Homo sapiens: one gene and its partner. The protein of the gene in region 2 interacts with the protein of the main gene of each other region in a biochemical or structural test. Each region holds a gene or a part of one and is shown on either strand. Other genes may lie near its edges.

What was found. Proteins that work in one complex are often made in the same cells at the same time.
Region 1: of the proteins of FOXL2 (region 2) and LATS1, one has a biochemical effect on the other in vitro, tested with the Homo sapiens proteins (one study listed by BioGRID).

The regions. Positions count from the first base shown.
Region 1 is NC_000006.12:149,708,079-149,715,105, forward strand, and holds part of LATS1 (serine/threonine-protein kinase LATS1), read right to left. Parts: intron 1-7,027. UniProt on the Homo sapiens protein: Negative regulator of YAP1 in the Hippo signaling pathway that plays a pivotal role in organ size control and tumor suppression by restricting proliferation and promoting apoptosis.
Region 2 is NC_000003.12:138,944,138-138,951,009, forward strand, and holds FOXL2 (forkhead box protein L2), read right to left. Parts: upstream 3,001-6,872; 5' UTR 2,586-3,000; coding exon 1,455-2,585; 3' UTR 87-1,454; downstream 1-86. Other genes in the region: FOXL2NB (FOXL2 neighbor protein), read left to right, coding at 5,534-6,106. UniProt on the Homo sapiens protein: Transcriptional regulator. Critical factor essential for ovary differentiation and maintenance, and repression of the genetic program for somatic testis determination.

The DNA of each region.
Region 1 (7,027 bases), on a different chromosome or scaffold from region 2:
TTAAATACATGCAATTAAAATACACAGGATTCATTTTAAAGAAACTATTATTTCCATGAAACAATGTCACTTCATTTATCAGGGGAAATAACAGAAGCATTACATTTGAATATTCATTTCAATTTTAATTGTACAAGACCACCCTGGTCAATATGGTGAAACCCCGTCTCTACTAAAAACACAAAAATTAGCCGAGCGTGGTGGCAGGCACCTGTAGTCCCAGCTACTCGGAAGGCTGAGGCAGGAGAATCGCTTGAACCACAGAGGCAGAGGTTGCAGTGAGCCGAGACTGCACCACTGCACTCCAGCCTGGGCGACAGAGCGAGACTGGATCTCAAAAAAAAAAAAAAAAAAAATTTCAATTGTAAGATAATCTAAATCTTCTGATCTCAAAAACGCTGAAATGGAGGAATTGTGTATATCTTTAGCCAATTGCTTTTGGTAAATATATTCTGGCAGAGACTATATTCACATACAGTACTCGACTCCATTTCCCAGATTTGGCCAAAGCTGGATGAGCAGATGTAACATATCTCAATTCTGGACTGAGGCAGTTAAAAGTCACTTTGCTTCGGTTTTCCTGCTTTAATGACAATGTAGGTTACATTCTGAGATGGTGGCTTGACAATATGGAAGGAAGGTGGATCCCTAAGCCACTGGATGGAGAACCCTACTGACTCCCACTGAACTCTGAGCAAGAGAAACATTTCTGTTGTGTTAAGCCATTGATATTTGGGGATTTGTTACCACAAAACAGCCTAATAACATTGTGAAAATAGACAAAGACTGCCCAAATGGAAACAAACAAAGGCTATTTAATTAGATCTTACTATATAGGTAGGGAGTCAGCCACTGTCAACTTGTGCTTGGCAAAGATTCAAAGGCAAGCAGGGGAGTGGGAAATCTTTATACTAAAAAAAGGGGGAAGACATCAGGTATGCTCTGATTGTAGGTTGTTGGCATGGGAAACTGGAGGTGGGCTAACTGATGTAAACCAAAAATAAAATTCTAAGTCCTTCAACCATCTGAATGAACCCCTCCTCCCAGCCAAGAGCATTTGAAAGTTAACCTGAAAAACTAGTTCCAGCCATGATGGGAAGCGGAGTTTGGCCATACCTCATTATTCCCTCCTCCCTGTTGGAATTCAGGCACAGCTGACCAGCACTAACATTAAAACAAATCTTAAGACTGACAAAACAGACTCTCTGTAGCAATAAGATACCCAATTCCAGCCTGACTCTAGCATAGTATCACATGACAGATGGCAGGCCCTGAAAGAAATCCAAGTATTTGACCCCAAATTATGTTTCTTTGCCATATCTTCAAACAGTCCTGCAAAGCTGTCTCTTGTGCGGAAAATCTACATTCTGAAGTTAATTCCCTTCCTTTCTCAGGCCTTTTGCCTGATCCAGGAGAGAATCAACCCTGATAAGAAACATTTACAATGTATTATCTCTGAAGCCTGCCACCTGGAGGCTTCCTTTACATAATGGGAACTTTGGTCTCCACAACCCCTTACCTTGGCTCAGACATTCCTTCCTATTGATTCTATCTGCATAATGGGAACCCTGGTCTCCACAACCCCTTATCTTTTTTTTTTTTTTTTTTTTTTTTTTAGATGGAGTCTCACTCTGTTGCCCAGGTTGGAATGCAGTGGCTTGATCTTGGCTCACCACAATCTCCGCCTCCCGGTTTCAAGTGATTCTCCTGCCTCAGCCTCCTGAGTAGCTGGGATTACAGGCGTGCGCTACCATGCCTCGCTAATTTTTGTATTTTTAGTAGAGATGGGGTTTCACTATGTTGGCCAAGCTGGTCTTGAACTCCTGACCTCGTGATCCACCTGCCTCGGCCTCCCAAGGTGTTGGGATTACAGGCGTGAGCCACTGTGCCTGCCCACAACCCCTTATCTTAACCTAGATACTCCCTTCTATTGATTCTAGGTCTTTAGACAGTAACAACTCTTTCGACCAACTGCCAATCAGAAAATCTGTGAATCTACCTATGACCTGGAAGCCATCTGCTTCAAGGTGTCTTCCTTTCTGGACCTAACCAATGTACATCTTACATATACTGATTGATGTCTTATGTCTCCCTAAAATGTATAAAACCAAGCTGTAGTCTGATCACCTTGGGCACATGTTCTCAGGAGCTCCTGAGGGCTGTGTCATGGGGCAATAGCCATTCATATTTGGCTTAGAATAGATCTCTTAAAATATTTTACAGAGTTTGACTCTTCGTCGACACTGGAAGCGGGGTATCCTATGTGGTTGATTTGGGAAGCATATTTGGCTTTCTCTGAGTCGTCCCGAATTGGAAGAAGGCACAAAAATTAGGGAAGCTGGTAATTACTGACCAAGTCCTGACTGGGCCTATTGCTACATAGGTCATGGGTCAGAGTTCTAGTTTTATATATGATCTGGCCATTGTCCATCTGTATATTCAGTGTTTCATTATCCTAATACAGAAAACTGGTACCTGGAAGTGAGGTGCTGCTACAATAAAAACCTATGCAGTCCTGCCTTAGTGATACTGCCTTAGTGGTCAGATTAAGGGCTGAGAGGAAACAGATACCGGAGGCTGGAAAGATGGAGGATCATGTTTTATAGTGGCAAAATATCTGGTAACGCTGTTGCCTATAATAACTTTTCATACAACTACAAGGTCAGTGAACATACAAAGAGGCTACTGACCTTGTAGTGTTATAGGAGTTTGGTAAAGAGGATTTTGGAAGTGAGTATTGGCTGCTATTAGATATTTGGCAAGTATTATAAGTAAATGATGAGTTCAAGAAGGAAGTAGTAGATTTGAAAGCAAAAACAGAAGAGAATAGAAAAAGTTCAGAAATTTAAAGCCTTGAAGGATTGGAAAAGCAGCTTGTACCTAGACCCCTAGAGGCAGGATTAAAAGACTGAGCACAGATGCCCACTGAAACCCCTTAGCTAACTAGTGCTTCTGTGGTTAAGACCATATTAAAGACGTAGCCTTCCCATCAAACCTAATAGCCTCAAACAACCAAATGAGAGGAGGAGGAATAGACGCTCTTAAATCTTTGGATGAGTTTACCAATACATGTGAACTTCGACTGTGGTTACTGACACATAGAACTGAAGGAAACCAAACAGATCGGAAGAGGCTTACTAACTTTAAAGAAACTGTTTTGTTAAAAAAAAAAAAAATATCTTTTGGCCGGGCACGGTGCCTCACACCTGTAATTCCAGCACTTTGGGAGGCCGAGACAGGCGGATCACGAGGTCAGGAGTTTGAGACCAGCCTGGCCAATAAGGTGAAACCTCATCTCTACTAAAAAATACAAAAATTAGCTGGGCGTGGTGGCATGTGCCTGTAGTCCCAGCTACTCAGGAGGCTGAGGCAGAAGAATTGCTTGAACCTGGGAGGCGGAGGTTGCAGTGAGCGGAGATTGTGCCACTGCACTCTAGCCTGGGTGACAGGGTGAGACTCCATCTCAAAAAACAAAATGAAATTTTTTTTTCTTAAATCATCTCAAGTTCATACTAAAAAAATCTTCTTGTCTATTCAAAATTTAAAACCCTTGGGTCCCCGACTTCTATGAGCAAGAAGCTAGTTGAAAAAGATTTGTACGTTCCAAAGGGAAGGTACAACACACACTTCACAGGTGGTCAAGGATGATCATTAAAACAATGGATGGGAGAGTTCCTTCCAAATAAATCAGGGTCCAATCTCCCCTACCTCCAGGCCCGGTTGCTTACACAGAATCTGCCTAGGAGATTTCAGATTATAGATCAGCATTTGCTGCTTATCTCCCATTATTCTCTTTTTCTAGGAAGAGCGCTTACTGTGGCCCTTGTGTACTGCGGTGAGTGAGTAAGGGGAAAAGAAAAGGAAGGGAGATAGAGAGGAGACACAGTGAGTGACAGAGAGAGAGAGAGTGCGCACACACGCAGCACACAGGACACATTACTTCACAGGTCCCTGGACCAAGAGGAACCATATCTGGACCTGATTAAGAGATTATTGGGCATGTGGATAATAGGACCCATGAATCTTGCCTCTGTCACTAATCAGGGCCCAATTTCTTAGCAAAAGAATAACATAATACCGTGAACATCTTTCCACAGTTAGGTGTCATGTTTCTTTTATTTATTTATTTATTTATTTATAGATGGAGTTTCGCTCGTTGCCCAGGCTGGAGTGCAATGGCGCGATCTTGGCTCACCGCAACCTCCACCTCCCGGGTTCAAGCAATTCTCCTGCCTCAGCCTCCCAAGCAGCTGGGATTACAGGCCATGTGCCACCACACCCGGTTAATTTTCTATTTTTAGTAGAGACGGAGTTTCTCCATGTTGGTCAGGCTGGTCTCGAACTCCCGACCTCAGGTGACCGCCCACCTTGGCCTCCCAAAGTGCTGGGATTACAGGTGTGAGCCACTGCGCCCAGCCATATTTTATCTTCTATTCTCTCTTTTCTTTTTGAATAGAGATGAGGGTCTCGCTATGTTGACGAGGCTGGTCTCAAACTCCTGGCCTCAAGCGATCCTCCCACCTTAGCCTCCCAAAGTGCTGGGATTACAGGTGTGAGCCACCATGCCCGGCCAGTATCATGTTTGTTTGATTCTAAGCATGCTTTTCTACATTTTAATATTTCTAAAAGTTAGGGCCGGGTGCAGTGGCTCATGCCTGTAATTCCAAAACTTTTGGAGGCTGAGGTGGGCGGATCTCTTGAGCCCAGGTGTTTGAGACTAGCCTGGGAAACAAAGTGAGACCCTAACTCTACAAAAAATAGAAAAAATCAGCCAATTATGTTGGTGTGCACCTGCAGTCCCAGCTACTGGAGAGACTGAGGTGGGTGGATCAATTGAGCCCAGGAGGTCGAGGCTGCAGTGAGCTGTGATTGTGCCACTACACTCCAGCCCGGGCATCAGAGCAAAACTCTGTCCCAGAAAAAATAAATAAATAAATAAATTGAGTATATCTTAAGATCAACCCTTGGGCCCCCAACTTCTATGAGCAATAAGCTAGCTGAGAAAGATGTGTACCTTCCAAAGAGAGAATACTCACCCAACACACACTTCACAGGTGGCCGAGTATGATAATGAAAACAATGGATGAGAGTTCCTTCCAAATAAATCAAGGTCCAATCTCCCCTCCAAAGCAGAGAAGTTCTAGAGTAGCAGTCATTGCACATGCCTAACTTAACCATACATAAAAGTCGAAATCTCTGTTACCTCAATTGTATTATTTTCTTTTTTTTTTTTTGAGACAGAGTCTCCCTCTGTTGCCCAGGCTGGAGTGCAATGGTGCCATCTCGGCTCACTGCAACCTCTGCCTCCCGGGTTCAAGCAATTCTTCTGCCTCAGCCTCCCAAGTAGCTGGGATTACAGGAGCCCACCACCACACCCGGCTAATTTTTTGTATTTTTAGTAGAGACGGGGTTTCTCCATGTTGCCTAGGCTGGTCTCGAATGCCTGACCTCGGGTGATCCACCCGCCTTGGCCTCTCAAAGTGCTGCGATTACAGGTGTGAGCCACCATACCCGGACAATTGTAATATTTTCATTGGCAGCACCATATATGATGCTCAAAATGTTTTTTCTTTTTTTCTGTTTTGTTTTTGTTTTTTTGAGAAGGAGTTTCTCTCTTGTTGCCCAGGTTGGAGTGCAATGGCGTGATCTCAGCTGACTGCAACCTCTGCCTCCCGGGTTCAAGCAATTCTCCTGCCTCAGCCTCCCAAGTAGCTGGAATTACAGGCATGTGCCACCATGTGTGGCTAATTTTTGTATTTTTAGTAGAGATGGGGTTTCACCATGTTGGCCAGGGTGGTCTTGAACTCCTAACCTCAGGTGATCCACCTGCCTCGGCCTCCCGAAGTGCTGGGATTATATAGGCATGAACCACTGCGCACGGCCTCTTTTTTTCTTTTATCATTATTACTTTTTTTTTTTTGTGAGACTGTCTCACTCAGGCTGGAGTGCAGTGTCGTATTCTGGCTCACTGCAACCTCTGCTTTCCAAGTTCAAGTGATTCTCATGCCTCAGCCTCCGGAGTAGCTGGGACTACAGGTACCCACCACCACACCTGGCTAATTTTTGTATTTTTAGTAGAGACAGGGGTTTGCCACGTTGGCCAGGTTGGTCTTGAACTCCTGACCTCATGTGATCCACACACCTCAGCCTCCCAAAGTGCTGGGATTACAAGCATGAGCTACCACGCCCAGCTATTATTATTTTTGTAAATACAGATGGAGATCTTGCTAGGTTGCCCAGGCTGGTCTCAAACTCCTGAATTCAAGTGTTCCTCCTGCCTCAGCCTCCCAAAATACTGGGATGATACCATGCCTGGTCCACAAAATGTTCTGAAAGATTCCATTGTGACATAGTATTGTGCACTCAAACTGTCATTCAATAGACAATGCAATTAAAGGCATAAGTAATTATTAAATTCAAGCAAGATCACAGAATTTTCAAAGGTAAGACAGACTCAAAAGTCTGCCAAAACTTTTGGAGTTATCTTCAGAAGAAGCTGTTTAATTTCCAGCAATAGGTAATTCAATTAAGAAGAAGAAAAAAAAACTAAGTAAGCAAAAATGAAAGGCAAGCAAAACCCCAGTATTCTTCAATATACCTTAAAATTATACACACAATCATAAAGACAATATAGGTTAAGATAATTAACTAGCATTATGAAAAGCAGCCTGTTATCATGATGTTGCATTAACTAACCGAAGTAATTCAGAAGGATCCTAGATTCTGAATGTGAATAAGGCTGAGACTCAAACTTTATTGTGACAGACGAAAATGGTATACAATTGAATGAATAAATGTATGCTATTATTAATAAAAGCTTTATGTTTACTTTCTTCCTGCTAAAAAATTGCTACTAAATAGATGGCTTATCTTAGATTTAGTGGTATTTCAGAATTGATAAAGTATGATAGTTCAACCTTATTCCTTTAAATACCGATATTGAATTTCATCATGTAGATGTACTATTTTTTATTTATTTATTTATTATTTCTTTATTTCTTTATTTATTTTTGAGACAGAGTCTCAC
Region 2 (6,872 bases):
TTCTGAAAAAGATAAAATTTTGCTGAAAATCTTCCTCTTTTAACTAGCTGCTGAACTAAGGAGCGACAGAAATAAAGAAGTCCGTGTTAAAAGAAGGAACACAAAATTTATTCGGGAATCGACAAGGCAAAAAACAAAAACAAAACAAAAAAACACAACAAAAGTGCTCTAGTTCTCTCTAGAAAATTTGGTCCCCCAAACAACAAGCTACAGTACAACCAGGTCTATGGTTTTCGGGCCGGGCCGGCTCCGGGCCACAAGACCGCCTAGGTCGGCCGCTGCCGGGTTTCACATTTCTCCTTCCCAAGGTGGGAGAAGCAGGAGGTTTGAAAAACAAAAAGCAGGGAGGACGAGCCGTCCCAGCAGCGTGGGCCAGGCAGGCAGTGATCTCCCTGCCTCCAGGACTTGCATCGAAAGATCCGGGGACATTTGTTTTTGATTTTTTTCTTCAGATAGGGAGAGGGTGAAACTTCCCCAATTGGTAGACGAAACCATCTTTTATTGGATATATTCTCCTAACTCTGAACACAGCTTTTTGAAGGCCCAACAAAAACTCTAACGCAAATCTTCCAGAAGAGAAGATGAGGAATACTAAAGCTTTTGATTTTCATATTTGGATTTAGCAAACTCCAAGGCCACAATACTTCCCCGGTTGCCCGGTGAATTTTTTTTCCTTTTTTTTTTTTTAAATACTCTCTTAAAAAGTTCCACCGATCTTTCAAACAAAACATTAGCCAGCCGCCGGGGCCCGGAGGTGCCCGAAGCGACGGGACTGATAGCGGAGGAAACGCAGCCTCCCTCCGCGCCCGCCCGCGGTGTAAACCGAGTACAGGCCGTGGAGCCAGGCTGCCCCGGCTCCCGCTGGGTCCCAACCCCCGCCCCGCCTAGTGGGCCCCGCGGCAAGCGGCTTCTGAACAGCTTCAAGAGGGTTCGCGGAGCAAACACACGTATTGGTCCGTCCCTTTCTCGGGCAGCGCGGTCCCGCCATCAGTCCTGTCCGGCGCGTCTAGCCATGGACTGCACGGCAGTCGGGCGGGGAACGCGGAGAGCGAGCGCACCGACCTGTGAGAGAAGGCCAAGAGGTCTGCGCTGCCGACGCCCGGTCGCACCTCCGCCCCGGGCCCTTTCCGCGGTGAATTTGGGCAGGAGACGCTGGGGCTCCGGAAAGAGACGAGCCCAGTAGAAAGCGCGCAGAGAGGCAGCTTCAGGCCAGGGGAGTGCAAGGTCACAGAGGTCAGGGAGGTGAGCACAGGAGGACATAAACTGAGGGGACAAAGAGGAGCGACAGGAGCTTAGGAAAGCGAAAAAGCACAGAGGGACCCTGGGCGCTGGCTCCAGAGGCGGGCCCAGAGGGTGTGAGGTCAGGCTGGCGGCGGCGTCGTCGGCTGCGACCGGGGCCGGCGTCGCGCGTCCCTGCATCCTCGCATCCGTCTGCACCGGCATGCGGTGGGCTCTCAGAGATCGAGGCGCGAATGCAGCGCGCCGGTCTTGCTGTCGTGGTCCCAGTAAGAGCAATGCATCATGGCGAGCTCGGGCTGCCGGGCACAAGCGAACTGCAGGCCCGGCGCACTGGTGGGCGCGGGCGCCGGGGGCGCGGCGGTGGCTGGGCTGGCAGGGCTGAGCTGGCCCGGCGGCGGCGCGGCGGCCCCGTGGTGCGGTGGGGCAGGCGGCGGTGCGGCGGCCGCGTGCAGATGGTGTGCGTGCGGATGCGGGTGGGGGTGCGGCGGAGGCGGGGGTGCGGCCGGCGGGCCTCCCAGGCCATTGTACGAGTTCACTACGCCGGGGGGCAGCGCCATGCTCTGCACGCGTGTGTACGGCCCGTACGAGGCGGCCGGGCCCGCCAGCCCCTTGACCACAGCGGCCGCGCCAGGGCTACCGGGGCCCGCGGCTGCAGCCGCAGCTGCTGCAGCCGCTGCGGCTGCCGCCATCTGGCAGGAGGCATAGGGCATGGGTGAGGGAGGCTGCGGTAGCGGCCACGAGTTGTTGAGGAAGCCAGACTGCAGGTACTTGGGGGGCGCCAGGTAGCCGTAGCCGTCGGCCCCGGCGCCCGCCACGCCGCACCCGCCTGCGGCGCCTCCGGCCCCGAAGAGCCCCTTGCCGGGCTGGAAGTGCGCGGGCGGCGGCCGGAAGGGCCTCTTCATGCGGCGGCGGCGCCGGTAGTTGCCCTTCTCGAACATGTCTTCGCAGGCCGGGTCCAGCGTCCAGTAGTTGCCCTTGCGCTCGCCGCCGCCCTCGCGCGGCACCTTGATGAAGCACTCGTTGAGGCTGAGGTTGTGGCGGATGCTATTTTGCCAGCCCTTCTTATTCTTCTCGTAGAACGGGAACTTCGCGATGATGTACTGGTAGATGCCGGACAGCGTGAGCCTCTTCTCCGCGCTCTCGCGGATCGCCATGGCGATGAGCGCCACGTACGAGTACGGGGGCTTCTGCGCCGGGTCCGGCTTCTCCGGGGCTGTCCCGCCGCCACCCCCACCGCCCTTGCCTGGGCTCGGCGGCGGCCCTTCTGGCTCCTTGACTGTGCGACCGGTCTCTGGGGCCAGCAGGGCCCCCGCCGCGTCCTCGGGCTCGGGGTAGCTGGCCATCATGACAAAGCCGGCGCGCCGCGGCCGGGCCGCCTCTGCTCTCCGCTCCAGGCGCTGGCGCGGCAAAGAGTTGGGGCGCACGAGTCCGCTTACGGCCAAGTCTCAAACTTCTGGAGACTGCGGATGCCGCCCGCGCTTGCTTGCTGGAGGCCTGTCGCTGCTCTCCCCTCTCCTTCCCCTTCCCCTAGGGAGCGGCCGGCGGGAGTGGAGCTCAGCCTCTGGCCATGGGGAGTCCGCCCAACAGAGAGGGGCTCCGGCCTCGCCGCCCCTCCCCGCTCAGGCCAGTCCCCGCCTTGGTGGGTTTTCTTTTCTGCGCTCTTCCCCTCCCCCCGCCCCCCGGTTTCCCGAAGCACGACCCGCGTCTCTGGCGGAGCTGCCTCCTGGAGTCCCTAGTGCGCCAGGAGCCTCGCTCTGTTCTGATTCGTATGGGCTCCACCGAGTTCCGCTTGCGTCAGGCGCCTTCGCCCCTATAGCGGGGCGGCCAGCCGCGCACGGGCGAGTTCATCTCCAAGTCACTTTTTGTAAACGCCCCGCACAGCCTGGACCGGCCTGCCCCCGCCCAGCGAGCCTCAGGGGCCCAGCCGACAGCCAGGCTCACGCGCCCTTGAAATCTGCCGGTACTCGCTCTGCGGGCTGGGCTGGGAGATGACGAGGACCCCGGTGGGGTCTGCCCGCACCCGGCCAAAGCCCAGGAAGCTCGGGCCCCAGCGAGGAAAGGCGCTCCAAGCCTCCTCGCGGCTTTCAGGTGAAAGAAAACGACTCCTTTGCTCTGCCGTTTGCTGCCGTCTTGAGGCTGAACTTCTAGCTCGGGGCTGGGGAGGGGCGAGACGGCGAGGGGGCTGGACGGGGTAGGGTGGGGAGAGCTGCTCTGAGGCTTTGGGAAAGTCAGCCCAGAAACGGGTGTGACTGTACGAAGAAGCCTCGGCCTGGCCTGTCCCTCGCGCTCTCAGAGTGACTGGGCTGGAATGGGGCAGGGGAGAGGATCTCTGGAAATAGTCGTCAGGGGCGCCGCCTGAATCACCTCTGCCTCTCCCTGCGTTACCAGTGGATCTAGGAACCAGGAATCCGTGTACTAATCCTACGGGGTTGGAGTGAAGGTTGGATGTGTGCTTTAACAGCACCAAGTAGATGCCCCTCAGCTATTGCACTAACACAGGCGGGGCTGTTGCCCGGGACTTTGCGGGACTGTGTATGTGTGTGCACAGGGGTCACATATGGAAGTCATGGAGAGGAGCTGTCCTTGAGATGGGTGAGATACCAGGTGCATGTGTGCTGCTCAGAAACACAGGTATGCACATGTACAAGGTGTGAGATTTGTATTTACGAGGTAAAACACACTTATACTGATAGTTATGTAATATGTTCATCAAGTATTAGAGTAAATGTAGCTGGTGGATATAGCATCTTCTCTTTTTCTCCTTTCTTACTTCTTTCCTTCCCCCCTTTCTTCCTTTCTTTCACAATTCTTCGATGCCTCTTTCCCTCCCAGTGTATGTATTTTGCCACAGACTGGGAAGACAAACATCAGGCTGAGGGAGGGACTTGTTCAAATCTCTCTCCTGATGAGACATTTGTTCTGATCTTTCTCCAAAGAATCAGGAGTTAGTTGTCACCTACCTTAAGCAGAATTCTGATGGGAATCCAATTATTTCAGCATGTACAGAGATTGTTTCAGGGAAAATCAGGTGTGCCTTTTAACAGTGTGCTCCTTAACAGTGCCTTTTAACTTGGCCTAAACAAAAAGTCTGCAGTCATAAAGTATGAGAGAGATGGCCAGTGTTTTGAATCCTCAAGCCCCAAACTCCTTGGTGCTGAGGAGGGGGGCAAGGCCACCTTATGGAGGAAGGTGGACTGAATGGATGTCATATAGCTGTGCATTAGTGATTGGCATGTCTGGAGTGGCTGACTCAATGCCTGTCACTGCCTCTTCCTCCCAGGCTGTTTAGACTCTGAGGGTTCTCCTGAAGCCCAAGGAGCCTTCAGCGGCCTGTGGTTCCAGCATCCACAGGCCATCTACAAGTGTTGTCTGCTGCTCACTCAGGCCTCTGATCTGCATTCTGAGATGAAAGGGAGGGAGGACAAGGGTGGTAGGGCTCTTTGGAATTCAGCATCTTGAAGATGACACCAGAGAGGTCAGCAGGGCAGCCCTTGCCTGGTCACAAGGATGAGAGGGAGCAAGGCTATCCCCAAAGTAGCTTGGTTTTTTTTATGGGCGGTCTCCCACTGCACCCAACAGACATGGGGGAAGCAGCACTTCCGCAGAATCCCTGCTGCTGCTTTCTGAGCAGGAGTGCAGATGTTTTTCTTCTTCCTTACCCCCATCCTTGCCCAAGCTTTGGGTGGGAGTGGTGAGTCCGGTTTGGGGCTGCTGCAGATTGGCCTCAGTGCCTATCCTCCCCCAGCCAGGGCCTGGGCAGGGGGAAAAACAGCTGGGTCTGGCCCCATCCTGGTGGGGGCTCCTCTCTCCTTTTCTCTCCTTTTTTTTTTTCTTGACCACCCAGGCTGGCTCTCTGCGTCTCTCTGTCTTTCTTTCTTCTTCTCACAGGCATTTCCGCTGCTCAGCCCTGCAGCAGCCAGGTGTAACAGCATTGTTGTGTGTGTCATCACTTCCCTGAATTCCACACTCGGCTCCCTTTTCAGCCTTTAAAGAGCCTGTGTGTGTATGCATGTGCGTGTGTGTGTGTGTGTGTGTGTGTGTAGGGGTTGGGGGCAAATGAAGGAGTTCCTCTGAAGGATTTTCAGAATAGAAAGGAGTTCTGCTCTGAAAATACTGATTTCTGACTGTCCCGTAGAGGAACAGAATCCCCAGCCCTGGTGAAGAAGAGGATGCCTGATGCGTGCACCCTGGGAAGGGCTGGAATCGGTCTCCCCAAGATGTGCCTTCACATGGCTGTCCGGCATTCGAAGGCTCAGAAAACAGGCAAGAAAATGCGGGCGGGAAAGCTGGCAGAATGATTACTTTCAGGTCCCCTCCAGGCTTCTGCGGAAAAGCCAGGGGCTTCGGGCTGGAGATAGAGGAATCTAGGGAGAGAACAGAATCCTCTCCTTGCCGGCCCAGCCAGAGGTGGGTGAACCGGGCGCTCCAGGAAACGGTGCGGGGCGCCCTGATTTACTTCTCAACCTTCGGAGGTAGGCTGGTTGCTGGCGAGGTCGGGATCCTCTCTGAACAGGGCATACTGTGCCTAGGTTTTGTGGACGCCAGGGCCGGTTCCTTTTCTCCCCGCGGCATTGGGGCGACGCAGGGCCCCCGGCTTAGTGACCTTGGGGCGGCGCTCACCTCCAAAGGCCAGGGTGGTGGGCTGGGCAGAACTCACTGCCTCTTTGCCCCAGTTTTCCAGGGTCCCGCAGCTGCAATTCAGCAGCCACCGGCGCCTCCTGACCGTGGTCCCACCGTAGCGCCGCCTGCGGATACGGTTCCAGTGAACCGCCGATTGAGCGCAGTCTCAGCTCCCGCGCCTCCTCGCAGCCTGGCCCCGCGCCTCGGAGGTCCCGACAGCCGGCGCGAGCAATCTACACGGCTCTGATACAGACGCTTTTCTCCCCAGGGCCGGGAATCCTGCAACAGCGGCAGAAGCCGCCCGCGCCTCGGGCTTCCGGCGGCCCAGCTCTACTAGGGAAGCGTCGCGGCTGCTCTGAGGCAGGCAGCGCTTCGCTAGAACCACTCAGCTCGTCCCGCGCCGCCGCCGGCTGCCTGAACCAGGTTCCGCTGTCCCCTTTCCTAGCGGGACCCCGAAACACCCGGCGGCTTCCCGCTCCTGAGCGGGAGAGAATAGAGCTTGCTGCAACCCTCTGCTTGGAGGGATGGCCTCTGCGGTGCTTGGCTAGCAAAGGGAAGCTTCACTGTGTCTATTAGTACATCCCCATACACTCCACGCCTCAACAACTGTCAGCACTCACTCCCTCCCGGCCCCTCACAGGGCCCTTTGCACCCACACCTCAGGGACTCGGTGTCCCTCCACTCAGGTCACGTTACTCCATCCACTTCTCTCTCCTTCTCCCTCTGTCAACTCCAAATCCCCTCTAGTTCTCCCTCCCCTCCTACTTCTCTCACACTCACCAGCTACACGTACTAATTCAGATTTTGCACATGTTGGTGGAAAACATGTCAAGCCAATGTGCAGACCCTAAGGCTTTTCACACGCTGCTCACTTTCGCATCTCACGGTGCAGAAGGACCAATGGGCTCCAGGTTTACAAGCCTGACTCCGAGAAGCCTGTTGATTCTCTGATGTCCTTGGCCTGTGATTCGGGTGACTGGGCTGCCACCTGGGTGTTTTCATGATGGGACTGC